Linked DNA regions of Homo sapiens. The protein of the gene in region 3 interacts with the protein of the main gene of each other region in a biochemical or structural test. Each region holds a gene or a part of one and is shown on either strand. Other genes may lie near its edges. The genes, in order: WDR6, WDR3, OXSR1 and WNK4.

Evidence for each region.
Region 1: the proteins of OXSR1 (region 3) and WDR6 interact in a test that uses a peptide from one of them, tested with the Homo sapiens proteins (one study listed by BioGRID).
Region 2: the proteins of OXSR1 (region 3) and WDR3 interact in a test that uses a peptide from one of them, tested with the Homo sapiens proteins (one study listed by BioGRID).
Region 4: the proteins of OXSR1 (region 3) and WNK4 are reported together in a solved structure, tested with the Homo sapiens proteins (2 studies listed by BioGRID and IntAct, with this or other methods).

The regions. Positions count from the first base shown.
Region 1 is NC_000003.12:49,003,085-49,010,408, reverse strand, and holds the start of WDR6 (tRNA (34-2'-O)-methyltransferase regulator WDR6), read right to left. Parts: upstream 3,019-7,324; 5' UTR 2,978-3,018; coding exon 2,878-2,977; intron 2,805-2,877; exon of another isoform or gene 2,750-2,804; intron 1-2,749. Other genes in the region: P4HTM (transmembrane prolyl 4-hydroxylase), read right to left, coding at 3,502-3,722, 4,222-4,345, 4,542-4,691, 5,239-5,548, 6,149-6,311. UniProt on the Homo sapiens protein: Together with methyltransferase FTSJ1, methylates the 2'-O-ribose of nucleotides at position 34 of the tRNA anticodon loop of substrate tRNAs. Required for the correct positioning of the substrate tRNA for methylation.
Region 2 is NC_000001.11:117,924,929-117,932,753, forward strand, and holds the start of WDR3 (WD repeat-containing protein 3), read left to right. Parts: upstream 1-4,810; 5' UTR 4,811-4,854; intron 4,855-7,825. UniProt on the Homo sapiens protein: Part of the small subunit (SSU) processome, first precursor of the small eukaryotic ribosomal subunit.
Region 3 is NC_000003.12:38,161,291-38,168,543, reverse strand, and holds the start of OXSR1 (serine/threonine-protein kinase OSR1), read right to left. Parts: upstream 3,008-7,253; 5' UTR 2,668-3,007; coding exon 2,598-2,667; intron 1-2,597. UniProt on the Homo sapiens protein: Effector serine/threonine-protein kinase component of the WNK-SPAK/OSR1 kinase cascade, which is involved in various processes, such as ion transport, response to hypertonic stress and blood pressure.
Region 4 is NC_000017.11:42,783,605-42,790,625, reverse strand, and holds part of WNK4 (serine/threonine-protein kinase WNK4), read right to left. Parts: intron 6,690-7,021; coding exon 6,469-6,689; intron 6,205-6,468; coding exon 6,047-6,204; intron 5,530-6,046; coding exon 5,441-5,529; intron 5,361-5,440; coding exon 5,144-5,360; intron 3,349-5,143; coding exon 3,084-3,348; intron 2,849-3,083; coding exon 2,727-2,848; intron 2,497-2,726; coding exon 2,438-2,496; intron 2,337-2,437; coding exon 2,219-2,336; intron 1,946-2,218; coding exon 1,829-1,945; intron 1-1,828. UniProt on the Homo sapiens protein: Serine/threonine-protein kinase component of the WNK4-SPAK/OSR1 kinase cascade, which acts as a key regulator of ion transport in the distal nephron and blood pressure.

The DNA.
Region 1 (7,324 bases), about 11 Mb from region 3:
TTTGAGACAAAGTCTCACTCTGCCGCCCAAGCTGGAGTGCTGTGGCGCGATCTTGGCTCACTACAAGCTCTGCCTCCCAGGTTTACGCCATCCTCCTGCCTCAGCCTCCCAAGTAGCTGGGACTACAGGCATCCGCCACCATGCCCGGCTAATTTTTTGTATTTTTAGTAGAGACGGGGTTTCACTGTGTTAGCCAGGATGGTCTCGATCTCCTGACCTCATGATCCGCCCACCTCGGCCTCCCAAAGTGCTGGGAATACAGGCGTGAGCCACCGCGCCCAGCCTCATCAGTCACGCTTGATGTTCACTTCAACCACAAATTTCTCAAACTCAGAGCCTCCTCCTCACCTCACTTTTTTTTTTTAATTAAAAAAAAAATAGAGATGGGGCCTGGCACAGTGGCTCACACCGATAATCCCAGCACTTTGGAAGGCAGGAGGCTCGCTTAAGCCCAGGAGTTTGAGACCAGCCTGGGCAACAGGGCAAAACTCCACCTCTAAAAAAATTATACAAATGAGCTGGGCATAATGGCGCATGCCTGTAGTCCCAGCTACTTGGGAGGCTGAGGTGAGAGGATCTCTTGAGCCCAAGAGGTGGAAGTTGCAGTGACCTGAGATTGCACCACTGCACTCCACCCTGAGCAATAGAGCAAGACTCTGTCTCAAAAAAAAAAAAAGTAAAATAAAATGAGAAGGATTTTGACAATGCAAAAAGAAAATAAAAGATGTAAAATGAGAAAGTCTAATCCAGTGGTTCTCCACAGGGGGCAACTTTCCCCACAGGAGACATCTAGCAATAGCTGGAGACACGTACGGCTGTCTCCAGGGGTTGTGCTACTGGCAAGTAAGGCCAGGGATGATGCTAAACATCCTACAATGCACAAACAGCATTCCAACAAAGAATTATCTGGTCTAAAAGGTCAATCGAGGCAAGATTGAGAAAACCCTGGTCTAATCTAACAAGACTGGGTGAGTGTAAGGGGAGGCCAACTTGAGGACACAATATTTAGAGTTAGGATTCAAGGATAAGCAGCAGTTAGCCAGAGGAAAGGAGGCGGAAGAGGGGGACTGGGAAATGTTGGGGCGGGGGGGGGGGGGTGGGGAGCAATGGGAGGGTTTGCAGCTTTCTTGGTGGAGAAAACAGCATGTATGATTGCCCTGAGATGGGCAAGAGCATTGAGTATGGTGGATGGAACAGGAAATGAAGAGCTCAGGAAGAGGCTAGAGAGGCCGGGTATGGTGGCTCATGCCTATAATTCCAGCAATTTGGGGGGCTGAGGCAGGCGAATCACTTGAGGTCAGGAGTTTGAGACCAGCCTGGCCAACATGGTGAGGCCCCATCTCTACTAAAAATACAACAATTAGCTGGGCATGGTGGTGGGCACCTGTAATCCCAGCTACTCCGGAGGCTGAGGCAGGAGAATCACTTGAACCTGGGAGGCGGAGGTTGCAGGGAGCCGAGACCGTGCCACTGCACTCCAGCCTGGGTGACAGAGGAAGACTGTCTCAAAAACAAACAAACAAACAAACAAAAAACACACACACACAGAATTGTAGCTATATAAAAGTCACTTTGGAAGCCACAGAAGTAGGTGAATTCACTTGCAGAGCTTCTTAAACTGCATTTCCCAAGTTATTCCCCACCTTAAAACCCTTCAATAGGTTCTCCCCACTGCCCTTAGGGATAAAGTCAGATCAAGGCCTGAAACAATGTGGCCTCTGCTCGCTTGTCCAGCTTCCTTTCCTCCCAGACTCCATTCCTGCTCTAACTTCACAAGAATTCCCTCCTTCCCCCAAAATGACAGATTCTTCCAGCCTCAAGGCCTTTGGCATGCTTACCCTCTTGCCAGGAACTCACCCCTTTTCCTAGTTCACTCTTGTGGTTCTTTGAGTTTCTGCTTCGTTGTTCCCCCTCAAGGAGCCTTAGGAGTTTAGCTCGCGGTAGGAACTCCGCGCTCCAAGAACCCCCACACCAGATCAAAACTGGATCATCCCCACCCCATACACACACCCTCTTAGGACTGGTGGCAACTCACTCAAGGCCTGACCGCCAAGGCCCTGCCTCAGGACCCTTATACAACTCAGCAGCACCAACATGGGTCATTAGTGGCTTCATGTAATGACTGTTCGAGACCAGCCTGGACTCTGACACCTCAGGTCCCAGGCCTCGCCTGTCCTTTGCGACCCGGTTCTCCTTGGAGGGACCTCCACACCTGATTTCCTGGACCTCAACCATCTCAGGAGGGGGTCTCAGCCCCTGCTTCCCCGGGCACCGCCCCCTACTCGGAAAGGTCTTATCCGCCGTTTTCCGCGACGCCACCCTCCTCAGAGGATCTTCACCCCCACCTTAGGGGGAAGAGACTCATCCCGCCCTCGAGAGGCCACACCCTTGCCCTCTCCCGGCCCCGCCTTCCCCAAGAGGCCACACCCCCTGAGGGGCCGGGGCCGCCTCCGCCTCCTCCTCCTCCTCCTCCCTCCGCCCCCCCCAGCTCGGCCCCGTCTCCTTCGGAGAGGCCAAGCCCCCGCCCATCTCCTAGAAGGGAGCACACCCCCTCAACCCTCAGCTCCCGGGCCTCCGCCTCCGCCTCCGCGCGGCCGCGTTCCCCTGCACCCTCCCGCGGTTCCACCCGCCCTTTCCACGCGGGCTGAAGTTTATGAAGCGCCGCGGCGGCCACATCAGCTTTGTCTCTCGGGCCCCGCCCTCTTCAGGTTGGCCCTCGTCCCCGCCATCTCCGGGGCTCCCTTCCCACCTCCGATCGGCCTCAACCTGCTGCCCGTCCTTCTCCTCAGGGCACCCCTTTTGTCCCTGTGGCACCGCCCCTGGGAGGCGCTGTTTCTTTCCCCCTTTCCACCAGGCGTGCCTCAAGCCAAGCCTCACCCGCCAACAGCCGGTCCCCCACGCACTCCAGACCCGTCACTGGGAGGAGTATAAGCTCCGAGGTTGCCCGCGGCCAAACGTAGTCCTCGAGAGCGTCCATGTCGATCCTCGAGGTGCTGAGGCAGCCACGGCTAAGAAGGGAGCTGAACTCTCGCGAGAACGAGCCTTCCCAGCGCGCCGCGCTGCCCATCAACAGCGCCCTCAGCTACAGGTAGCAGAGACCAGGGCGCCCGCGGCGGTTGTCCAATGACGACCCTTCGTCCCACGCAATCCAGCTCATCATTGGCGGGGCCCGCGGAGGGGCATCCCGCCCCTCGCCCCCTCACGTGACGCTTGCGGGGCGCTCCCAGCTGCCAGCCCGCTGCACCTATCGCGGACTCTGTTTCGCCGACCCGGAGTTTGTCGGGCCCGGCGGCTCGAACCTTGTGGTTTTTTATTTGACGGGGCAGATGGAGTCAGTACACAATAAATAACATGAATATAGGAACTGCGCCGTATCGCGGCTGGCGGGGTGGGGCAAGACATTGGCCAGACCTTTAGTCTGCAGCAGGACAGAAGGACAGCCGGACCCCTGATCTTGGGCAACTGGCGACCCGCGGCTGGGAACCGGGGCTAACTCTTCCCTCAGAGTTCCACGCGCGCATCGCGGTAGGCCCGGTCCAGAGCCCACTCGGGCTGTGAGTCGGTGCCCCCTTCTCGGGCAAGGCGGGCCATCTCCTGTTGGAACAGCGCTTGCCGCGCTCGGCTGGGGTCCACATTAATCCAGTTGTTGGCAATCCACTTGGTGCCGCGCGTGACCAGGCAGCCCCCGTGCAGCGAGTAGTCGTCTACGTCACCCACCCAACCTAGAAGAGGAGGGTGACGTGAGATCCTAGGCTGGGCTGGCCAGAGCTTGGCCTCATAGGCACCAAGAGCATGACCAAGGTGGGTCCAGCTATGCATTCCTTGTGTAGCAAACACCCAGACCTAAAGCTTCCTTGGAGGCTCCTCATCTCAGCCCACTAATGTATAGTCAACACTACTGGCCCTCTGAAACCAGCTTTCTTGCTGTTGGGCCTGTCCATATCCCTTCCCATCCTGGGTTAGCAAGGGACATGTGTCCCAAGCCCCAGGGAGTAGGAAGGCTGGGGCATCAGGGAATGATAGGGATGGATATAACCCAATAAGCAGTACAGGTCCTGGGGCAGTCTGCTAAAGTCACTAAGGATGGCCTTTGGGAGGCACCAGGAGCAGAAAACTATTTGGAAAGCAGCCAGAAACAGCCCTCCATTGTGGCAGACGGGGGCTGGGTAAAGGGAAGCTGTACTCAGGGCACCCCCCCCAGGCCTGGCCATAGGCCCTCACCTTGCCCATCAGGCAGGTAGTTGTACCAGAAGACTGCTGTGCCCTGTTGGGGCTTGACACGCAGGTTTCCCTTGTCACAGTGCCTCCGTGTGTCACGGAGGTCCACGTCATCCTGAATCAGACTCTGTGGGCAGCAGGGTGGTGGGGTGTTCAACCTGTCCCCACTCTATGGCCAGGCCAGCCAAGGGTGACCAAAGGGAAACCAACCAGATATGCCCAAGGAATAATTTGGGCCCACATCCTTAGACCTGGAGAGGTGTGTACTTCACTTGTCTAAGCCCCTGCCAGCCCACAAGAGTAATAGCCCAGTTGACCCTTACCATTTCATCGTAGGTTCTGTTATCTGCTACAGGGAAAACAGTCTCGCCCCCACCAGTGACGTTGTTCAAATAAAACAGCACTGTCATGTAGCTGTAAGGCAGGGGGGGCACTGAGCAGGTCCCCAGTTGTGGATGCTCCCAGGGGCTTACCTGTGGGCAGGATAAGCTGCCCAGGTTCCTGTTGCCAGGGACCAGGACAGACTAGGATGGGAGACAATAGGGCAGGCCAGTGCCAAAATGTCCCTAGCCCCTCCTTCCCCGAAACCCAGTCTCTTACTGTGAGTTGCAATGGTTTTTTGGCCAAGATCACAGGTGCACTTAGTTAAATGCCATGGCCCTGAGCAAGGGCCTGGCAGGGAAAGGTAGGCTAGCAGAAGCAACAGGGCGCGCTGAAGGGCTCCTTGGGGATGGGAAGGGGCTGGGCCAGAACAGCCACCTGAAGAGGAAAGAACTGGCTTGACAGGGGAGGGAGGCACAGCTTCAGCTTCTCTAAGTGGAATCAAGATCAACACCTGGAGGAATGGGCAGGACAAGCTAGGGGCCCAGCCTTGCCCCTTGCTTCAGAACTCAGGGGGCAAGTTTTGGTGTCTGTGGGTACATCAGTCTGTGTTGACTCCAGTGGTCACGATGACCAGTAGCCACCCCTTTCCAGCCATTGGGTAAACAACTTGTGGGGAGAGGTGAGGGCATCACTAACCGGGATAACCCAGTGATCTCCTGGCCCCATGCCAAGGGGCACGCCCACAGTGCAGGGCTGTGCCTGTGTCATGGGTGTTCCTGGTCTGAGGATTGAAGGCAGCCCCCAGTTGGGAGATACTTGCCGGCAGGAGGTCTCGAAGGGTACAGACTCGTTGGCTACCAGCTTGGTATGGGAGCAGATGGTCTCTGGGTACACAGGCCCACTGTCCACGTGGGCATGGTAGTGGCCCCCCTCACCATATCGAACAACCTGCAGCGGCTCGCTGAGCTCCACGATCTCAGGCGACAGGCGAGTGAGGCGCAGCACCCTGGTGGGCAGCAGGCATTTGGCTGGGCAGCCCCAGGCAAGGTGGTGATCTGAAGGAGCTGGCCAAGGTGGACCCTAGGCCTGCCACAAGCTTTGCCCCTACCCACCTCCCCTGGAAGTCCCTTAAGCCATCTCAGACTGGCCCTGTAAGAGCAGGAGGGGGTTACTCATGATGATCCTTCTCCCTCAGATGCCAAAGACAGAGACACCTGCTATGTGGAAATGTTGACATTTCCACTAAATAAAGGGGGCGGGGAGTCCTGAGGTCCTCCTCCCTGGAAGAAAGTTGTTTATTTAAAAACCCTTTTCCTGCTGTGACGGGGTCAGATAAGGGGTCAAAGATAAGAGGTCATTTATCTAATCAGAAAGAAGTGCTCAATCTCTATCTAACCCCAGTTGCCCATTGTGTGCCTGCAAGGAGGGCTAATTTGCCTTTGTTAATTGCCTGTCTTTCAGTGGGTCCCAATCCTGGTCTAACAAATGGAACTTAATCCCAAATGGGTTAATCCATTCTGTCCTCTTGGCCCCAGACAAGGACTTCTGTGGAGGCCCTGCCCAGTCTTCTCCCCCTGCTCCAGTGAGAACAGCTTCAGGTGCTCACCTCTGGCGGATGGCACGCATGATGTGGTGGGCACCCTCACCCTGGTAGAGCCAGGTATGGTGGCTGTTCCGCACCAGCTCACTGGACTCTGCCTTGTGGCTCCTCATGTACTTGTGGAAGTCCCGAAGGTCCATGTTGGAGAACTCCTGCAGACTCAGCACTCCTGCACAGGGCACCCACCATCAATGCCCACCAAGCCCATATTGGGAGGCAACAGTGGCAGGCTGCACTTCCCTACCTACCCCAAAGGCAGCAGCAGCCCCTGACCTCAGGCACTGAGGGGCCTTGTACACTTGTCCCCCACCTGGACTTTTGGGTCAGATGAACCTGGTTTCTGTCACATCAGGCCTTACAGGAAGACCCAGAGCAGTTCCTTTTCTCAGTTTAAGCCCTAATTTGGCCCTAAGAAGAAAGAGGCCCACCCCCTATTAGAGTGGCCAGAGAAGGTTCTCCAAAGGAAGCTTGAGCCATATGGCCAGGACCCTGGCCTTCCAGCCTGGCTATATAGAGTGGTGGCCACTCTCCGGCCTGTGGAGGGTGAGGAGAGAGCAGGCAGTGCTGGGCCTCATCCAGGGCCTTACATACATACGCCAGGGTGCAAGCAGGGCCAGCCCCCGGGGAGTTCCTCATGACCCCAGGTTTCATCCTGGGTGGAACCTACTTCGCCAGCCCTGCCTACTGCGTTACCAGCCCACCTTAGCAACGAAAGTCAGGCCACCCCCTCTCATGAGAACATTCTCCACTGTCCCTGCTCAAACCATTAAGCAGGGGTTCTACCCTCTTGGGGTTCTGGAAGAGTAGTTGGTATCTTTGCTCCATGTTATTCTGGCTGACCCAAGGACATCACCTTCCACTCTTTGGCCCAGATTCCTCTGAGGGTGGGGGACATTCAAGGGCTGTGAGACTGTCACCACCTCTGTTCTGGGGCCTATAGCAGTGTGGCAGCCATCCAGCCACAGGTCACGGCCAGATTCTTCACTCTGGTTCACCAGCCGCAAAGCCACTGTTCCAAGTCCTTTCTAACTGCTGTATCTTCCTCTCTTGGTCCAGAATTTGGGCATGAGGGTGATGACCACACCTCAGAAACCTCCTGAGAGTTATTACCAGAGGGGGCACCACTTGCATGACAGCTTCCCTGCCCACCCCTCCCCAGCAGTTAGCACAGGTAGCAGCACT
Region 2 (7,825 bases), on a different chromosome or scaffold from region 3:
GAATGACGCTTGACAAAAGTTCATAATTTCAAAAAATTACCTGCAGATTTTTTATGACAATGAGTCATTGTCATAAAAAAGCTCTTAGCTATAATCTAAAAACAAATCCATTAAACACAAACACAGTTTTCAGTTTGTAAACTTGAATGCCAACTTTCAGGACAAAATTGCTTTTTTAAGATAACTTTTCTTTCTGACTCTAAGTAATACATGCTTACAGAACATTTGAAAAATACCAAATCGGTTGGACGCAGTGGCTCACACCTGTAATCCCAGCAGTTTGGGAGGCTGAGGCGGGGAGATCACTTGAGCCCAGGAGTTCAAGACCAGCTTGGGCAACATAGTGAGACCCCATTTCTACAAGAATACAAAAAACTAGCCAGGTGTGGTGGCATGCATCTGTAGTCCCAGCTACTCAGGTGGCTGAGGTAGGAGGATTGCTTGAGCCCAGGAGGCAGAGATTGCAGTGAGCTGAGATCACACCACTGCACTCCAGCACGGTGACAGAGCAAAACCCTATCTCAAAAAAGAAACAAAACAAAAAGAAGGAAAAGAAACCAAAATTAAGGGGGAGGAAAAAATTCCTCAACTTTTGATGTAGTTACTACCTTTTTCTGTGATAGGTAAAATCATACTGGTACAATTTTGAATCCAGTTTCTTTAGTATTTTAAGGTAAATATTTCCACACACAATTACACAGTGAGGCAGAGACAGTATGGTTCGATGTGAGAATTTGGACTCTGTTATCATAGGGTCTGAGTTTGGATCCAGGACCATCATCTAATAGTTTTGTTATCTTTGACTCTGAACCAGTTTTTTAATTTCTAAAATAAGGGTAATTCTCCTAAGATTATTGTGAGCATTCAATGAGATAACTGGTGTCAAAACTGCATAGGAGAACAATTACCTTAACTTCCCTCCAACTCAAAATCATTCACTGTTTCCAACTTCCAAGTGACGATTTGAGGGTATATTCCACACGTTTAAGCCCACCAAATCACTTTAATTTAATCAATTTCCTTCATTTGACCATTTCTCCTCTTAAGAGAGTGTTACAACATAAATTCTCCTTTTACAATTACATCTTGGCTTTTTCCTTCCTCTCAATCCTCCTGTTCTCAAAAAGGTTTTCCTCCTTTATTTCTTCTACTTCATTTCTTCTTCAGAATACTAAACTCCTTTTTACCACTTGACTTTTTAAGAGTAATTTGTTTTGTAGCTCTACTTCCTCTTCGTACATTTGCCCAACCTACTGCAGTTTTGCTTCCGCTCTACAGCTATACGAAAACTACTCTATTCAACAATAACTTCCCAAATGTCAAATCCAAGAATTAATCCAATTTTATCCACATTTATTACTGATCATTTCCTCCTCAAAACTCTATTATCTTCTTTGACATTATACCCTGGTGGTTCTCCTATATCCCTGATCATACCTGGTCAGTAGAGTTTGTTGGATCCTTTTCCTAGCTTTTAAGTAATTGTGACCCACAAGATATTGGATGTTAAATAAGTAAAAGTAATGCTCATAGCTCTTATTGTAGGACAAAATTTAATGGCATTTTATGAAGTGTCACAGTATTTAACAGAGGTTGAATTCTTTTTCAACTCCATCTCTAAACAGAATTGATGTTTCTCACCAAAAAGAGGTTTGAATCTCTCCTTCCCCTAAACACATATACACCTTAGTAATACATACAGTAAATGGAGCCACAAACCCAAGCTAGGCAGAAAAACCTGATCCCTGAGAGAACAGTGGTTTTTAACATTCTCAAGGTCACAGGCCCCTTTGAGAATCACATGAAAGATACAGATCCTTTCACTCCCCAGAATATTTGTATATGAGCTCATACAAGTAGATTTGTAAATAAATTTGAATTAGAATCTCAGTGATAGAATGCAAACAGATTGCTTAAGTGACAAAGGGAGGAGGAGAAGGCTCCTACACCCAGTAATCTATAGCCACAGCCAGAATTTTTGCTAACATTAAAGGAGAGCAAGACTGTCCACTGAAAATCAGTTGATCAGCTCTGTACTTTTAATAAGTTCATAAACAAACACTAAGCCCTAGTTAAAAAAAAAAAGGCTCTTGAAGCAAGACATTAATTTCCAAGGATCAAAAAGTCTACATGGGACAAACAGAAGATTCCATAATGAATCAAATCTATTTCCATATCCATATGATCTTCAGTACTTTAGTGAAGAGGACCTAAAGACAAAGATAACCCACTATGTATCTTTTATAATTCAAATGGTGCAGTGTAAACAGCTCTCATTACACTGTAACTTGTTTTTTTTTTCCTCAAATCCTGTCATCTTTTAGTTTAAGAAGTCCTTTAAATACTGCTTAATATGAATAATTGGATTGGCTAGAGAGATCAGATTTTATTGTTCAAAACTGGGCAAAATTGGGCATAATACCTTGGATCACCATCTCAAAAAAAACTTTTTTTCTGGATAGAAAGAAAATGATATCATTTAAGAGAGAAAAATGGTAACTTTTAACCTGTTTACCTGTCTTTCAAAATGCTTACATTGATCAGACCAGCCTGGATAACAACAGTACAAAGAGAGCTGGTGCATGCACTTGACCGCCATTAATTACCGGGTTTACCATTCTTTATGACTTTGTATTTCAATATTTAACAGTTCAGAGTACATGAGGATATGTGTGCATACCATACTTAAGAATCATTTTATGCCACCATCCAACACCATACTTAAGAATCATTTTATGCCATCAGAAAGACATTTTTTAAAAAAGATTTTCAGATTGGAAGACTAACTGAAGTAGTCAAATATGTCAACAATAAATACAGTATAACAAGAACATTCCTAAGCTTGTCAATGGCTTGGGTCAAATTTAACATCATAATTCAAAAGCACCCAAAGAACATATCCTAACAGTAAATTAGTAGTACCCCTTCATATTAAATGAACTGCACTATGTTTTAATTGTAAATATTGATATATTAGGCATTTTGAAACTTAAATAAGGAAGTAGAGTTACATCCTTGAAACATTGTATAAGGAATTTTGTAAGATGCATTACCTTACCACTCACAGTTGCTCTGATACCAACTCTTATTAAAATCATTTTTTTCCATCTGTGGTTGTCCCATCCCATAATATTTAATAATATTAAGATAGTTTTTTAAGAAAAGGTAAAATCATGACTCATTCAAATATAAAACCAAACCCGTGTTCAAGATTTTATTTAACTCAAAATGGAACCAGGCAGAGAAGATAAAGAAAATCCCAGAATTAGACACCTTAGAGCAGGAATATTGAAATAAATGTGCAAAAGGAGGCAAAACTTCCACTGAATCTCTGAGAGAATTCGCATGTCTTGACAATAATTATTTAGCATTGATGTCACTTACCTAGTTTACGTAACTGAAAAATAGCTTTTTTAGAATTAGTTATTCCAAGGGGTGTTAAGATAGAATCTAAACTATGTAGTTTTCCATTGAAGCACACACTTCTCCCCATAATAATATAATGCACAGCACCTGTCAGGGATATTAACCATACATACCCACTCAAATGCTCCCTTTCCCACCAAGCTTATTAAAATAATAGTTTGTGGCCACAATTTCTTCCCTTCTCATTTATCCAATACACAGCAATCTTGTTTCAAAACTCCTATGCTGCTACAGCTGTCCACAGTCTCATCATACGCATTCTTTGCTATTGCAATTTTCTTGAATATGGAAGATTAGCTGAACATGCATTAAGCTCAGGAAACTCTAAAGAAAATCAGATAATGTAGACAAAAGTCTAATTTCTAGGCTGGCTGCAGATACCTTGTTCAAGAAGCGCCGGCAGGATCTTCTTTTGTACAGCTATGTTAGCTTTAATTTTGCACAGCTCTAGACATCAGAACTCATTTCTAAACACTTCTATGCAGCTCAAGAATAAAAGTAGCAGAAATGCAAGAGAGAAAAGCTAATTCCCACTTGGTGAAAGAGCACTTAAGTCTCAGTGAGCAAACAAGGAGGAGTCAGCCTTGGTCACTTCCCCCTCAAGCGGCCAGAGAGCGGAAACACAAAGCCAGGCCAGTGTCACTCCAGGGATTGCGGGAACCTAGACAACGCACCATCCTGGGCTCAGCGTCTACCCACCCCTCACCCGAGGTGCTCTCGGTTCCGTAGAATGTCCAGTCCACAGGAACGGCAACACGGACTTGTCTTTGGGACTACAACCAGCAAGAGCTCCCGCCTGCCCCATTTCACCTGCACCCTAGGGCGCCCGCCTCCTTGGCTACAGCACCACTGTTCCTAGTGCCCGCCGACTGCCCACCCTTTCACTTCTCGTAGAGACGGCGTCCCCGACAACGCCTCGGGAAAGAACCTAACCAACATGCGAGGAAGTGGCGCCAGGCTCGTTCTTCAAGAGAAGTGACAGAACTAACCCTCAGCCTGCAATCCTGACCAGGGCCGAGTCCCGAGCGCCTCGGACCGCGCCCCCGGCCCTCTCCGCCCCGCCTTCCCTCCCGGCCTCAGTCCCTCCTCTCACAGCACTCTGGTGGTCCCATCCGGGCGGCGGGCGGCACGGATCAGGCTCCTGGTAGAAGGCGGCCGAGCGACATCTCCGGCGACCCTCAGCAGGAGCGCGCCGAGTACGGCGAGTCAAAGTCCCAGGAGACTGGAGTGACCAGCTGCAAATGCTCTGGGCTGCGAAACACCGGCTTCCGCTCCTGGCCAGAGCTCACCAATCAGCGCCCGGCTTTCTCCGTCATTTCCTCCTAGAAGGCAAAGGGAACCTCTGGCGGAAGAGGCTTCCGGAACGGACCCGGAAGGGGCAGGTCTTGTGGGCGGGTCCAATCGGCTGGGAGCCTCGTGGAGGCTGAGGTGAGTCCTGGAGGTGCGTGGTTGGGGCGGAGAGCATTATCTGCGGCTCCGATTTTGCAGATTCTGGCTGAGGCGTTCGTGATGTCAGCAGCAGCCGAGACGGGCGTGTTAAAGGCCGGTTGCTAGGGCTGGGGGAACTCAGGTAACTACGGGCGTCCCCACAGCAGTACTTGGAAGCCCCTCAGCTACTCGGCGCGGTTGCGGGTGCTGAGCAGAGCTGCCTGACCGTGCGTGTGCACGGGCTGGCCTGAGGATGATATGACCGTGTGTTCGGTGTGTGGAACCCTCCGTCACCCTCCCCTGACCGAAGACTCGTTTAGGAATGTGTGGCAGGTCTGTTGCCACGGTCCAGGCCTTCAGTGCATCTTGGAAACATCGTTTTGGGGGCTGTAGGTTAGGAAGCGGAGATCATGGGGTCTCGGAAGAAGGTTTGGTCGTGAACTGTCAGAAAGGAGGCGAAAGCTGTGCACGTGGAACAAAGTGAACAGTGCAAGTTGTATGGGAGGTAGTTTAAATATCGAGGCGATGAAAAAAGGCTGCTAGAATTGGGCTTACTCGAAAGGAAGTGGGCCTCAGAAGATAATATTAGTTAAAAGAAGTAGAGGAGAACATGGATGTTATTCTAAGTAAAACGAATAATATGAAGAATACAAGGTCGCGGGACGAGGAAGGAAACTAGCCAGCCTGACAGGAAGGTTTATTCGAGAAATACGGGGGTTAGATAGGATGAGTTTTTGGAAACTGGCAAACGATTTAGCCTTTTCAAGGCTTTAGGATAGGGAAAGCTCATTTGAAAAGATTAGTCGGTAGTATTATGACGTTTAAATGAAAAGAGTGAAAAACATGGAGGCGGAGGTGCTAGGTGGAAAATCAGTGCAGTAATCCAGTGATAAAGAGCTGGAACTGAAAGTGCTGGAGAGAAAGGGATCCTGTTTCAGAGTAACAGTCAGGTGGAATTGACTAAAGAGAAAGAGGCAAAGAGAAGCAGTTTAGCATAGTGGTTAAAAGCAGAAATTTTGGAGTTAGACTGGCTGGATTGGGATCTGGCTTTGGCAATTAGCTGCTAAATGACTTTGAGTTAGCAATTTGCCATCTCTGGGTCTGAGTTCCTTGTCTGTAAAATAGAGATAGGAAGAGTGACTTCCCTTGTGGTGTTATTGTGGAGAATTTGTTTATTTATTTTTAGAGACAGAGTCTCACTGTCACCCAGGCTGGAGTGCAGTGGCGTGATCATAGCTCACTGCAACCTCGAACTTCTGGACTCAAGTGATCTTTCTGCCTCAGCCTCCCCGAGTGCGTCACCATGCCTGGTTAATTTTTTAAAAAATGTTTTGTAGAGATAGGTTCTTGCTGTGTTGCCTATGTTGGTCTGAAACTCTTGACTCCTAGGCCTTGGCCTCCCAAAGTGCTGGCATTACAGGCATGAGCCACCATACCAGGTCCTTATGGATAATTTTTTTATGCTCATATTTACAATGTGCTAGAGGCTTTTCTAAGTGCTTTGCATATGTTAGCTCGGTTTCATTAATTGCTGTATGTAATTAAACAATTGCATAATGTTATCAGTTACTATAGCGTAAGCACTCTCTAAATCTTGGCTGCTATAATAATATTTTTTTATTAATAATTCAAAGGTTATTAAATGGTTTTGAGCCTGAAGAGCTGGGAAAATTGTGTCTTAGTGTCAGAAGAAAAGAGAGGGGTACCAGAAGTAAGGTAGGCTTGGTTATAGACATGTTAAATGTGAAACTATAAGGTATTCAAGTGGAGATGTTCAGTAAATATTGGAAACTCTATAATTAGTATTCATGTAGGTGGAAAGGACTGGAAATAGACAGATGGGAGTCCCTGGACCTAGGCATGCTATATGAATTCTCCAAGGAAAACACTGTAGAAGGAGGTGGTAGATGGCCAAAGACAGACAAACATAAGGAACAACTACAGAGTCTGGAGGAATAAGAGGAATTGGGAAAGAATTAATCAAATGGCCTAGGCTAAGAGCATTATCACCATGTTAATATTATCTTTCCTTGATTTTAAATTGGCTTTATGTTGGTTCCTGTGAGAGAAGCAATGAGGCCAGTAAGTGATTATTACCAGAAAATATTATCAGAGAGTTGAGATTGAATTTTTTTTGTGTTAGACTAAAACAGCATTTGATAATTAGAAAGACCCTGTAGAGTTAAGCCAACCAACCAAAGAAACAAAAAACAATAGCAAAAAGAAACAGCTCCTCATAAAAGACTGTAACTTCTTTATTTTTGTGTGTTTTAAGTTGCATGGGTGTTTTTTGGGGATACTTTTTACTCTTCCATGTAAAGAACAGATGGGACTGATTTGTTATCTCCTTCATTCACCTCTTGTCCCTTTTATAAATAACCAGTGGATTATGGATTTTCAGTGAATTTAATAAAAGTGCAGAAATTATGGCATCTTTCCAAAAATAGTGTGCCAAGTTGCTCAACCATTTTCTATGCCAAGGGTAAGTGGCTGCTCTGATTTTGAAATGAAGGACAGACTTTCATGTACTAGTAGTTCTCAAAGTGTGGTCCAAGAACTGCAATAGCAGCATCACTTGGAAACTTGTTAGAAATGAAAAATTCTAGGCCCTACCTCAGACTTATGAAATCAGAAACAGGTGCTGGGAGAAGAGATGAGATGGTGTTTTCTAGCAATGTTTTCATAAGCCCTCCAGGTGATTTGGATGTATACTAGAGTTAGAGAACCACTGTACAAGAAGGTAAGTACCATGAGGTTAGGGATTTTGCCTTGTTAATAGTGTATTTCCAGTGTCTAGAATGGTGCCTGTCTAATTGGTAGGTTTTCAATAGATATTCATTGAAAAATATGTTCAGTCTCAGACTGCCAATCTCTGTGTAAAAGCTTTGATGCTGGTTTAATGGGCAGAAGTAAATCAGTTTAGCTGCATTGAGCCTATAATGTCAGATATGCATGAGGTGGGCATGACAAC
Region 3 (7,253 bases):
AAATCTTATGGTACGTAAATTATATCTCAAAATTGTTTTTTTAAATGAAAAAATATTTATGCTAAGTGGAAGAAACCAAACATGAAAGACCACATGTTATATGATCCCATTTATATAAATGTCCAAAAAAGGCAAGTCCATAGAGACAAAAAGTAGATTTGTGGTTGTCTAAGGCTGGAGGTGGAAAAAGGGATTAACTCGTAAGAAAGCACAAGAGATCTCACGGGGATGATGGAAATATTCTAAAACTGGATTATGGTGATAGTTGTACGACACAGGGAATTTACTAAAAACCACTAAATGTTACACTTAAAATGGGTGAATTTTATATTAAATTATACCTCAGTAAAGTTGTTTTAAATCTATGAAAGATGGTCAAATCACATTGGAGTTCCTAACCTTTTAAAAACCATGGACCACTTTGTGAATGTGAGGAACACTAACCCTATCCAGAAGACTGAGAGACTCCCTTTTGCCCACTCACAGACATCCTATGGGTCTGAGGACACCAAATTAACAAATCACGAAATCTCTAGCGCCTTTGCAACTCTGAAATTCTCTGCCACCTTAACAGCAAAGGCTTTGAGAATGACTACAACCATCCTCTTCACCCTAGAAAGATGGATACACTACCAGAAAAAAAAAAAAAAAACTCTTCTTTTAAAATGATGATAGGGAACCTCCTCTTTACTTCTCTGACATCATTTTGGAATCTTCCATTTAATCCTTTCCTTCAATATGAAACTCTGACTGGGGGAACCAGAAGCAATCAGTCCAGACCGGGAACTAGCTGTCTTTAGAACCAACGAATACATGTCAAAGACCCAATATGTAGCAAGGACACAGGCCCATGAAGTGGCTTAAGCAAAGATGTGATGTCTTTATTTAGTCCGAGTTGTTTTGTTTTGTTTTTGTTTTTCCTATACGAACCAATATTGCTTTAAGCCCAGATTGTCTTAAAACAAGAGGCAAGTAAAAACAAAAATTATTTCACGAAGTTCTTTTTAAACCCACAGTGAAATAAACACTGACACCCCCAAGGCAGCTAGGAAGTCTTCAGTTGGTCTTTGTTATAAAACTAATTTTAGGGCAGGATGCTGGCAAAGCAGATAATTCGCCTTCCTCCAATACACAGGTGTCTGCTCATGTCCGTTGGATTGAGCCTGTATAGCTAAACATTTTGATTTCCAAGGTCACTGGGTTATTGTTGTCCAACAAATACTCCCCTCATCCCCAGTCCCCAGCCTCCTCCCAATCCCTAGGCTTCTGTGAGAATTACAATCTATGTGCAAGTTTTGGTCTCTGCCAACTGGTATTCCTGGACCCCCTTCAAATCTTTTCACACACCAGCCCAATTTATCGGATCACGTCAAGGCACTATTTGAGGGCCTCCAGTGATACTTAAAATTCCAAAATCTGTACCAAAGCTGAGAAGATCCCTAAGATCTGGCTCCTCCCTTCCCTCTCTATCCTTGCCAGCCTTCCTTCAGGTCCTAAAACAAATCAAGCTCTTCCCTTACTCAAGGCCACTGCATCTCTATATCCCTCTGTAAGGAAAAATCTTCCCGAGGCTCTTAATCCTCACTTCTCATGCTTCAGGGCTCAACTGAAATGTTATCGCCTCAGAAAAAGAATTTTCCTTGAAATCACCCTAAGTAGATCTCCAGGTTATTCTCTATCAGAACATCTTGTTTATCTCCTTCATGGCACTTGCCAAAGCCTCTTCAAATTTTTTTTTTTTTTTTTTTTTTTTTGAGTCAGAGTCAGGGTTTGTCGCCCAGGCTGGAGTGCAGTGGCGCGATCTCAGCTCACTGCAAGCTCCGCCTCCCGGGTTCAAGGATTCTTCTGCCTCAGCCTCCCGAGTAGCTGGGATTACAGGCGCGCACCACCACACCCAACTAATTTTTGTATTTTTAGTAGAGACGGGGTTTCACCATATTGGCCAGGCTGGTCTCGAACCCCCGACCTCGTGATCCGCCCGCCTCGGCCTCCCAAAGTGGTGGGATTACAGGCGTGAGCCACCACGCCCAGCCCTTCTTACTTCTTTTTGTCTTCTTATTTAATGTCTACCTCCCCGACTGGAAAGTCAGTTGGAAGGAGTCGTAAGTTGGGTCTCGGTTGCTCAGCGCGGTTCCTGCAGCTTCACCTGGAGGATCCCCAGTTCGCCCCAGCACGGATGGAGGAAAAACTTAAAGCTCCCTATCTATCCCACAATCCCAGAAATCGATGGCTGTGCCCACTTCAAGATCCCATTTCTCACACAGCCTCGGAAAGGCCTGTCCCACACCTGCACTTTCTTTCTCTACAAGACACATGGGCCGCTCCTGTCCACACATTTGAGAATCCTGTACACAAATCTCTCCTGAGCCCCCTCAAGCCTCACCCCACCCCACGCCACCTCACAGGCGCGCGCCTCAAAACCCCCTTCCCGTCTCACACGCGCTCCTCGACACAAGCGTCCTACAAGCCCCCAGCCCCACAAGCGCCCCACGAATTCCTATGAGGGCTGCGCTCCCCGAGCTCCCGCGGCTCCCCACGTTCCCGTGTCCCCCGCCTCCCAGCGCCGCGCCTCCCCCCTCCGCAGCGCCTGCTCTCACCGATCACCTCCTGCAGCTCGTAATCGTCCCTGTTGATGGACCAGGGCAGGGCGCTCGAGTCCTCGGACATGACGGCGGCAGCGGCTCGCGGTCCTCCCTCAAACTCGCTGACCTCGCTCGTCTCCTCGCCGCGCGTCTCCCCACCCCCAACAGCCGCCGCCGCCGCCGCCGCGCCCCCACCAATCGTCTCGGAACAGCCACGGGTCGGACGGCGCCGGGGCGCGGGGTCACCGCGCGGCAGAGCAGCGGGGGCTCAGAGCTCCGGCGGACCTCGCCTCCTGCTCCTCCGAGTCCGGCACTGCCCGGCCCAGCCCACGTCCTGTCCTCGGCCTCCGCAGCAGCAGCGACAGAAGCTTTGCCTGGGCCCAGCCCCTCTGTCCCGCCCTCCACCCCAGCCCCACGCACGGGCCAAACTTTCCCCTCTTCCTCCACCTGCCGACACGCAGCGCGCTGACGTCACTGCGCTGGTCACGCCCCACCTCGGGCCCGCCTCCGGCCGCCATCTCCAGTGTGGCTGGATGTAAAGTGAGCAAGCTAGAAACCCGAGAAGGTAGGAGTTCGCGGTGAAAGGGAAGAAGTGCTTAGGTAGAGGTTCATCGAAGGCATCGAAAAGCCGTAGGAGAGCCTCAAGTAGCACAGAGGCAGTAGCCACACTAAGCATGGCGACCAAAGGGCAGCAAAGTAGAAGGGGCAGAGCCACTTCTAGCGCCTGGGGCACGCTGCTGTCTCCGTCGTCGCATTCATTGGTTTGTTTGAGAAGGAATCAGAAAAGCAATGGGTGTGGGTAGACGTCAGTCATAAATTGGTCCCGCCTCCAGGCTCTTAGCGCGCTTCTCCGTGTTAGGGCTGCAGCCCTTCAAGAGCTCCGTTACCGCGCTCGTCTTACCACTTCCTCTGGAGTGACGTCACGGCGTAACCGTCACACCCTCGAGACGTGCGAAAGGCTCTACAGGGTGTGGAGAAACCCTGAGGGAGCGGCTGGGTGGGGTAGCCTTTGGGTGTGGACCACTGCCAACTAGGATAAAAGGCCTTGGGCCACTGGTCGGAGTGAAACTGGAAGTTTGCCTGGTGACATTTTTTTCAAGGCGGACGTTCTCTCTAACGCTTGTCGCGGCGCTGTCTCTCGCGGGTCCACCCTGCACTGGGCGGGTTCTGTCCATTCGCAGCTTTAGATCTGAAGCTCAAATAAGCACCTGCCTTGAGGGACTCGGGAGGTTGTCTTTCTTCCCCCCGGACAGGGCTTGGGGTATTAAACAAGTGAGATCGACCCACGGATTTGGGGGTTGTCTCACGGGCGTTGGCTTTTGTCGCCCCCACTGAACAGTTTTCTCAGTTTGACTACGTACGGCCGTTAGAGAAATTAGCGAGCTGAAGACTGAACACGCTTGGTAAATTGGATTTTAAAAAATAATGAGCATCCAACAGGGATAGGGCTAGGTGCGAAACTGTTCTAGGTTGGACACCTTTCAGTCCAACGGCAGTCTTTAAGGAAGAGACCTTAGGCCGGGTGCGGTGGCTCACGCCTGTAATCCCAACACTTTGGGAGGCGGAGGCGGGCGGACCACCTGAGGTCAGGAGTTCGAGACCATCCTGACCAACATGGTGAAACTCCCTCTCTACTAAAATACAGAAAAATCGCTGGGCGTGGTGGCTGGCGCCTGTAATCCCAGCTACTAGGGAGGCTGAAGCAGGAGGCGAAGGTTGCAGTGACCCGAGAGCATGCCACTGCACTCCAGTCTGGGCAACAGACGGAGACACCGTCTCAGAAAAAGGAAGAGACCTTCACCTAGGCCCAGCTGAGACGGAGCAGGGACCCCTTTTAGGGCCTGCAGGCCCTCAACCATGGAAATAAAGGAAAATCTTGAGTTACTTCAAGAGAAATTCCCGGCACTTAGCTAGCCTTGAAAAGTTAATGAACCCCTTGATAAGCAAGAGGGCAGTAATAACTTTAAACATTAGCCAAAGAAACTAAAATAACTGGATGTTTGGTTCCCTATAAAAACTAAAGATAACATCAACACATGTCCCTGAGTTGTTTTTTAGAAACCCAGACCCCCACCAAATGGATCTGCTGGCACATAGACCTCAGAGAATGGGGAGCTAAGGACTGAACTCTGACTGGTGGTTTGTTTTTTCTCTAAGTTTCTTCTTCCTGAAGAAGGTCATGCCCACAAGCTGTAGCTAACATTCTTTTCTACTGATCCGAAATTTTTAGACAAAGCTTCACCTCTTTTATCAATCGCAAATCAGAAAATCTTTGAATCCACCTATGACCTGTGGGCTCCTGCTTGGAGATGTCCCCCCTTTTTAGGTCAAACCAATGTATAACCTCTGTGTATTGATTTATGACTTTACCTGTAACTTCTTCTTTTCCGAAATTACCCCTATCTTTAAGAATGCTTGGCTGGGCGCGGTGGCTCACGCCAGGAAGTTTAGGTCCCCAGTATGTATTTCATAAGTTTATGAAATATGTATTATATATAATGTATATTTATATATATATTAAGCTTGAGCTACACTAATTCTCCCCTCTTGCTAGGCGCCCTGCCTTTCTACTGCAGCAAAACCTCCGTGTGGCAATCTAATGTCACTGCACTGGGCAAGTAGACCTTAGTTTGGTTCTAAAACACCGCCAAGCACTGGAAGCTCTGCGCTGAGCTCTGCTGTGGGAGGTCCAACTGACCATGAAACCAGTCAACTAGAAGCTACTAGCGGGTTTCCACCTAGTTGGTTGGATTGGAGAACGTTTCATGAAGAAGGTAGCATTTGTACCAGATCTTGCAAAGTTAACATGATTTCAACAGGTGCACATTTAGAGGATAGAATAGTCCAGGCTCAGCAAAGGTGCCGCAGTTCCAGAAAGCATAGCACAGGCCTTGCTGTAAGTGGTTTTCAGCCATTACTACTGACAGTTTCTTTACCATATGTTCTGCCTTTTTCTTTTTGCAGGGAGGAGAGGGATGGGGATCAAATGTATCAGAAAGGAGCTAAATCTGATGGTAAGAATTAGCCTCAAGGTTTGTACCAATAGAAAGGTCTACAAACCAGAAATTCTTGGCTTGGGGTTGTTGAGTTGTATGACCCATGGACATACTTCAGTTTTGTTTTTGTTTTGTTTTGTTTTATTTTGTTTTGTTTTTTTCTCCCTGGCACGGTGACTCAAACCTGCAATCCCAGCATTTTGGGAGGCCCAGGCAGGTGGATCACCTGAGGTCAGGAGTTCGAGACCAGCCTGGCCAACAGGGTAAAATCCCATCTCTACTAAAAATACAAAAATTAGCCACGCGTGGTGGCTGGCGCCTGTAATCCCAGCTACTCAGGAGGTTGAGGCAGGAGAATCGCTTGAACCCAGGAGGCAGAGGTTGTAGTGAGCCAAGATCATGCCACTGCACTCCAGCCTTAGCGACAGAGAGTGAGACTCCATCTCAAAAAAGAAAAAAAGAAATTATATATGTATTATATATGAAATATAGACAATATGTATGAAGTATATATACTATATATAAATATATATGAAATATGAAATATATAACATATATGAAACAACATGAAATCTATAATATATATGAAATATATAACATGAAATCTATAATATATATGAAATCTATAATATATATGAAATCTATAATATATGAAATATATAATATATATGAAATATATAATATATGAAATCTATAATATATGAAATATATAATATATATGAAATCTATAATATATGAAATATATAATATATATGAAATCTATAATATATGAAATATATAATATATATGAAATCTATAATATATGAAATATACATAATATATGAAATATATTATGTATATGAAATATACATAATATATGAAATATGTATATGAAATATACATAATATATGAAATATGTATATGAAATTACATAATATATGAAATATGTATATGAAATATACATAATATATGAAATATGTATATGAAATATACATAATATATGAAATATGTATATGAAATATACATAATATATGAAATATGTATATGAAATATACATAATATATGACATATGTATATGAAATATACATAATATATGACATATGTATATGAAATATACATAATATATGACATATGTATATGAAATATACATAATATATGACATATGTATATGAAATATACATAATATATGACATATGTATATGAAATATACATAATATATGACATATGTATATGAAATATACATAATATATGACATATGTATATGAAATATACATAATATATGACATATGTATATGAAATATACATAATATATGACATGTATATGAAATATACATAATATATGACATATGTATATGAAATATACATAATATATGACATATGTATATGAAATATACATAATATATGACATGTATATGAAATATACATAATATATGAACTATATTATGTAAATGAAATATACATAATATATGAACTATATTATGTAAATGAAATATACATAATATATGAACTATATTATGTAAATGAAATATACATAATATATGAACTATATTATGTAAATGAAATATGTATATGAAATATGCATTGTATATGAAATATGTATATGAAATATGCATTGTATATGAAATATGTATATGAAATATGCATTGTATATGAAATATGTATATGAAATATGCATAGTATATGAAATATGTATATG
Region 4 (7,021 bases), on a different chromosome or scaffold from region 3:
CCTCCCGCTTCCCACTCCAGAACTGGTGGTATGCGCTGAGACACACTCTGCAACCCTCTGTGTCTCTGGCTTTGCCGGCTCATCTCCCTTCACTCTCAACTCTGTACTGACTACTCCTCCATCCACATCTCTCCAGCCCTGCCTGACCCATATCCATGGCTATGGAGGGTCTTGTCTTGGCTGTCCCTTCTTCACTCAAGCTCATCATGACCTCCTTAAAAAAAACCTTCTTTCATTTCTAATTTCCTCTCTCCTTTGGTGGCCTACTCTCCTACTCTCCTTTGGTGGCCTACAAGTTGTCCTTGACATCCCTTCTCCCTAACTCCCAATCATATCAACTCAGCAAATATTTATTGAGCATCTACTATGTACTATGTTCTCTACTACGTCAATAGGTTACTGGATTACAGAGTAACTTATTTTCCCGAAACAACCCTCAGATTCACCCTTTCTCCTCTTCCCTCCCATAAGCCACTCTCTCCTTTGTCCACAGATGGCTTCCTGGGTCTACCTCCCAGGTATTTTCCCTTCCCCCTTCCACATCCCATGGCAGATGATTTTCATAAAGCCTACTGTCACGTTACACTGTGCCTTTTTGTTTTTTTGTTTTTGTTTTTTTTTGAGACAAAGTTCACTCTGTCTTCCAGGCTGGAGTGCAGTGGCGTGATCAAAGCTCACTGCAGCCTTGACCTCCCAGGCTCAAGTGATCCTCCCACCTCAGCCTCCCAAGTAGTTGGGATGACAGGCATGTGCCGCCACACACGGCTAATTTTTTAAATTTTTTGTAGAGATAGGGTCTCATTATATTACCAGGGTGGTCTTGAACCCCTGGGCTCAAGCAATCCTCCTACTTCATCCACCCAAAGTGCTGGGATTACAGGTGTGAGCCACTGGACCTAGCCTGCTCTGCCTCTCTATTTATTTATTTATTTATTTATTTATTTATTTATTTATTTATTTTTAGACAGAATCTCACTCTTGTCGCCCAGGCTGGAGTGCAATGGTGTGATCTCGGCTCACTGCAACCTCCGCCTCCCGGGTTCAAGCAATTCTCCTGCCTCAGCCTCCCAAGTAGCTGGGACTACAGGCATGCGCCACCACACCCAGCTAATTTTTGTATTTTTTAGTAGAGACGGGGTTTCACCATGTTGGCCAAGCTGGTCTTGAACTCCTGACCTCGGGTGATCTGCCTGCCTCGGCCTCGGCCTCCCAAAGTGCTGGGATTACAGGTGTGAGCCACCACGCCTGGCCTCTGCCTAACTCTTAACATTGTCTATTCTACAATCTGGGCCCACTCTACCTACCCGGCTTCACTCCCCACAACTCTCCTATAGGAATCTTTACTTCCAGTGATAGTGGTTTCCTCATGAAGCCCTCCCAGCCCCATATTCCAAGACACTCTCTACTTGGAATGCCTTTGCTTATGCTGTCCCTGCACAGGGACACCCTTCATGGCCTTTCCACCCTTCACAGCCTTTCTTGCCCATTTGCCAAGATCCTGGGTAAGCTCATTGCCCCTGCTGCCCAGTCCATCCTTCACCTACAGCCACAGTATTGCACATCTACCAGGCACTTATACGTAGCACTTGTGTGTACCCGGTCAATGTGAGTCTCAAATTGCTCCAGCTGAGAAGCCAAACCTCACTGGATAAACAGAAATCTCCCCCAAAACAAGGGCTGAGACATCTTCAGCGTTACTGTGCTAAGTGTCAACCAGAGATTTAAAAATGCTTGCTGTCGGATCAGTGGGTTTCAGCCCCAGCGGACATCAGGAAGGAGACTCTTGTTCCAGATCCAAACACTCTGTCCTCATCTCTCTCCCCCTCACCATGGCAGCTGCAATCTCTTCCGGGCTGTCCCCATCCAGATCAAATCGGAAGGTCACCATCTTGCTGTTATGGGTCTGTAGCTGGCACTCAACCACTCTGTCATTCTGGTCTGAGACCTTCAGATTCAAAGTCAGCAGAGGGGAGAAGGTCAAGCCCTCTTCATCATGCTGTGTCTCCACCCTACCCCAGCCAAGTGACAGCAGCCACAATGGACTTGGAGATAAGTAGACCCCACCTCTAAAGTCTGGTATTAGAAACCAGACTGGCCGCCTCTTGAGTACTAGTCATACACTGCTTCTCCCGTTTTCTGGGTGACCTCCCCCGCCTCCCCCTGACACTTCCCTCCTGGCCCTGTAGGTTACTCTCTATCTCCTGTACTCCATCCTTACACTAGTGACCCGCAGCCGGGATCGGGGTCTGCGCCGGAGATTCCTCCCTGGGGGTCTCCTCATTTGTCCCATCCCTTCTCCCACATCGCTAAGGCCTGAAGCTGCATCTGAGGCATAGCTGTTAAAGAGAAAGGAGAGAGAATGACTGTCAGAGCAGACACTGGGACCCCAGTGCCCCAGGTGTCTCACCCTGGCACCCCAACTTGTACCAGAACATACCTGTCCCCGGGGGAAAAGTCACTTCCAGGGCCAGAACGTGGAATGGATAGGGCAAAAGCCTGAAACAGGATAAGGGTTCATGAGGTCAGGGGAAGATAACTGTTGAGATCTAGGGAGATGGTGTCAAGGATGCTGGGAGGATATTAGGGAGATGGAATTAGGGAAGAGGAGGGCAAGAATGGTGGATTTCCAGGGACATGGGACTGGATCATGAGATTGGGTTTCACAAGGAGGGAGATAGGTCATAGGCTTGGAATGGCTGGGAGCCCCCCATGCGACCCCCTCTCACCGAGGGCAGGCAGAGATGGGACTCAGCCAGGCTGGATGGCACCCCCCCAGGGGGCTGAAGGGCAGGGTCTGAGGCATCCAGGAAGCCGGAGGAGCTGAGGTAGCCATCAGTCTCGCAATCCGCTGGTTGGGGAGGGAGAGGATCAAAAAAAGGGGAAATAAAAGGGAATAGTGGCAGAGGATGGGGCCTGCCTAAGCAAGGAGGGGCCTGGAGCTGTGGGAGAGTTCCTTCCTGGAGGGAGCTTCATGGCTAGAGGTGGAAGGCAGGGTAAGTGACTGCTGTGGGGGTGAACTTCTGGGTAGGGGGCAGAGGCCAAGGTGTTCTGGGACCTACGTCTCAAGATCAGGGGTGACTTACAAGTGGTAGATGAGTAGCTGGCGTGGCGGAAAAGGAAGGGCTGGTGCTGGTCTGCCTCTGGCTCCTCAGGCTCAGGGGGGAAGACACTGGGGGGACCGGGGGCCATGGGCACAGTTGCTGGTGGAGGTCCTGGCTCTGGTGGGAGTGCCTCCAATTCCCTTGCTTTACGCAGCTTCTCACGCTTTCGCTGGATGGCAGCAACCCGTTCACGTACTGCACGGGCCACTGGCTGGTAATCGGCTTCACAGACCAAGCCCAGAGCCACCTGGAATTGGGGTGGGGGATGAGGAACACAGCTTGGGACCCCCTATCAAAGATCCATCAGGACGCCTTCTTGGGAACTCCAGGATATGGGAGGAAGAAAACCAACACTTACTGATTACCCACTATGTCTGTTAACTGGCAGCTCCTTACATTATCATCACTAGATCCTCCAAACAACCTTGTGGGATAAATCTTACCATTCGATTTTTAGAGATTAATGAAGTAGCTGGTTCATAGTTATACAGTAAGTCAGTGGTTTCCAATGGGAAGAAGAGATGTTTGGCACTATCTAGAGACATTTTTAGTTGCCACAACTGGAGGGTAGGTGCTACTGAATCTAGTGAGCGGAAGCCAGGGGTTCTTCTCAACATCCTACAATGCACAGGACAGTCCCTAAAACAAACATGTCAACAGTGCCAAGGCCAAGAATCCCTTGTCAGCAATGGATCAAGATTTGATCTCAGGTCAGGTTGGGCCGTGCTATGGAGACCTGCTCTAAATTTCTAACACATTCTCAGATTCTTGACCTACCGTAGGTGGTCTCCACCCTTGCAACTGTCATGTCTCTATTAAGAATCCCATACTCGGCCAGGCACGGTGGCTCACACCTGTAATCCCAGCAATTTGGGAGGCCAAGACTAGTGGGTCACTTGAGGTCAGGAGTTCGAGACCAGCCTGGCCAACATGGTGAAACCCCGTTCCTACTAAAAATACAAAAATTAGCTGGGCGTTGTGGCTTTTGCCTGTAATCCCAGCTACACAGGAGGCGGAGGCAGGAGAATTGCTTGAACCCAGGAGGCGGAGGTTGCAATGAGCTGAGATAGCGCCACTGCACTCCAGCCTGGGTGACAGAGTGAGACTCCATTACTCCCAAAAAAAGAATCCCATACTCCCTTCAGGACTTCCTAAGCCAGCCCCCAAGCTTCTGCCCTTGCATCTTATGCCTCTCCCCTTCTACCAGCTTCCATTCATCACCTCCTCATTCCTTTTAGCCGCAAGCTTTGCTGAATGAGTAAAGGAGGTGGGGAAGGGTAACCTGATTTAAAATCTGAACCACCTCAGTTTCAATCCAGCTCTTCCACTTACTTACTTGGGGCCCTGGACAAGGTATTCAACCTCTCTGAATTTCCATTTCCTCATCAACAAGTTGAGATAAAACTGCCCCCTATGCAGGATGGGTAGCAAAGATCAAATGCATGTGAAAGTGCTTTAAGCCATGTACAGATGTAGGCTATTAATGAGCTCTTACTATGTGCCAAGCACTGCCAGGGATAGAAGAATCGATAAAACACAGTCTCTGCCCTCAGGGAGTTTATAGTCTAGTGGAGAAGAAAGATAGGAACTTATTCAGGTTTAAGACAGGACCGATAGTGGGGAGTGCTGTAACCGAGAACATGCTGAAGTGGAAAGAAGCATTTAAGTTTGACTCCAAAGGGGACGGCTTCCCGAAATCGATGGTTCTGATCATATTGGAAGAAAAAGAAAAAGAAAAATGGGGAGGGAGGAAAGAAGGAAAAGATGAATTGGCAAGAAGGGCATCCCAGGAAGAACAGATCAGCTGGAGGTAAAGCAGGGACGCTGGAGGACCCAGGGCTCCCTCTGTAAAGGAAAACTGGGTGTGCGTGCGGGTAAGTTAGGGCTGGAGAGGTAGGGAGACGCTGCAGGAGATTTTGAGAGGGGTGAGGTGCCCCGCCCCCATCGCTGCCACCCCTCCTGCGCCCCATCCCTGTTGCACTGTCCCCTCGAGTCAATGTCCTTTACACGTCCAGTGGCAGCACAGTCTGTCCTCCGCTCACCATCTCCTGTGCCACCTCCTCGGCCGCGTCCCGGCCCAGCTGGAACAGGAACTCGATGGCCTGGTTGTCCCGTGGGCGCCCCCCGCGCCGCGCGTCCTCCATGCGCAGCCAGAGCTTGAGGCCCGGCTTCTCGCCGTCGTCCTCCTCCGCTAGTTCCACGTGCACACCGCGCTCCTCGCGGAAGAAGGCGTGGGCCAGGAGGTCCTGGATGGTGAACCTGAGGGTGACGCGTGGGTGAGCCGAGCCCGCCGCGGCCCGCGGCCCTATTCTACCCACGCTCTGCCCTTTCACCCCCACCTCTCGTTCTTATCCGTGCGGATGCAGCCTTCAATGATCTCCTTCACCTCGGGTATCTTCACCTTGTGGAAGCTGTTCGGCTTTCTGCCCTGGGGAAGGGGTTGCATGACACCTCCCGTCCTCTGATCCCCAGCTCTCGGCTTGACACCACCCCCCACCCCTTACTCCACTCCCTCCTTAGGCAGCTGCGCGTGCAGTTGCAAAAGCCTGACTGCTACTGGAAGATGTGATTTCAAATCCTAATCCCCGCCCCCCCCCCAAGTATTTACAGTGTGATCTTGAACAAGTCTCCCGCTGTTTGTTCATCTGTAAATCGCAGGGTGGAACATTTGCCCCGCTCACCTCACAGGGCAGCTGGAAGGATTGGATGAGAGATGGGATGCGAAATCATTTGTGAACTCTTGGGAGCACCACACATATTATTATTCTAAATAGCGTGTACTGGTGGGGGCGCGTGTGCACTCAATATCCTTCTGTGTTCACCAAGGCGACTCTGTGTCTAGCCTGTTTTCGTGCAGGCAAAGGGCATTGACTGCGGGCTGGCCGGCGCAGGAAAAGGGGAAGTGGCCCTGGAATTGCCTTTCCCGCCAGCCCCATCCCTCTCACCGAAGTGACCTTGCGGTAGATTTGCGCGGCATTCTGGCACTCGGAGTACGGGTACTCAGAGGTGGCCATCTCCAGCATGCACATGCCGAACGCGTACACGTCCACGGCCTCATCGTACTTTTCCTCGTACATCTCGGGGGCCATGAATTCCGGGGTCCCTGTAGGGTCCACAGCAGGGATCAGATTGCTGGGCACTCTGGCCTCGTCCTTCCCACTGGGCTAGGCAGCCCCAGGCAACCCTGCGAGTGCAAGTGACCCCGGCCCACAGTGGGGTTGAGGTGGGTGCCATAGGTCTCCTCAGCTTCCCTGTCGTCTGGTAGTTTTGTGGACCTTGAAGGCCCTTGCTGAGGGGAGGGAGTCCCCAGGTTCTCTTCTGAGGTGGGGGAGGAAGGAATGGCATGGACCCTCCTGGAGAGACGCACCGATGACACTCTTGGCAAAGGAGGCGCGCTTGAGCGTGGCCAGGCCCAGGTCCCCGATTTTGACAGAGCCAGTAGGTCCCGTGATAAAGACATTGTCGCACTTGAGATCCCGGTGCAGGATGGGAGGAACCCGGGAGTGTAGGAAATGAAGTCCCCGCAGGATTTGGCGGCTCCAGCGCTGAAGGACCCGCGGCTTCATCTCCCGGAACCGCCTCAGGTACCTGGGGGAGGGCGCATAGCCAGAGTCCTGGTGGGGGGACACGTCCTCCGGGAAGGAGCCCCCCACTGGGAAGTTCCCCCCTGCCGCACCCTGCTGCCGCCTCCGCATCTTCTGCCAGCATTCTCCTAGCCTATGTCTGCCCGGCCCCAGGGAGAAACTGAGTCAGGGGGCATGGTGGATAGACATGACGTTACCAAACGGGTTGGGAAGTAAATTGATAGATAGGGCCTCGGCCAAGGTGCTGTGGGAGCGCAGGAAGGGATGACTAACTGCCCCAAGCATGAGGGAGAGCTTCGGAGAGGAAATACTTTTGTGTTGCATCTTGAATGATGA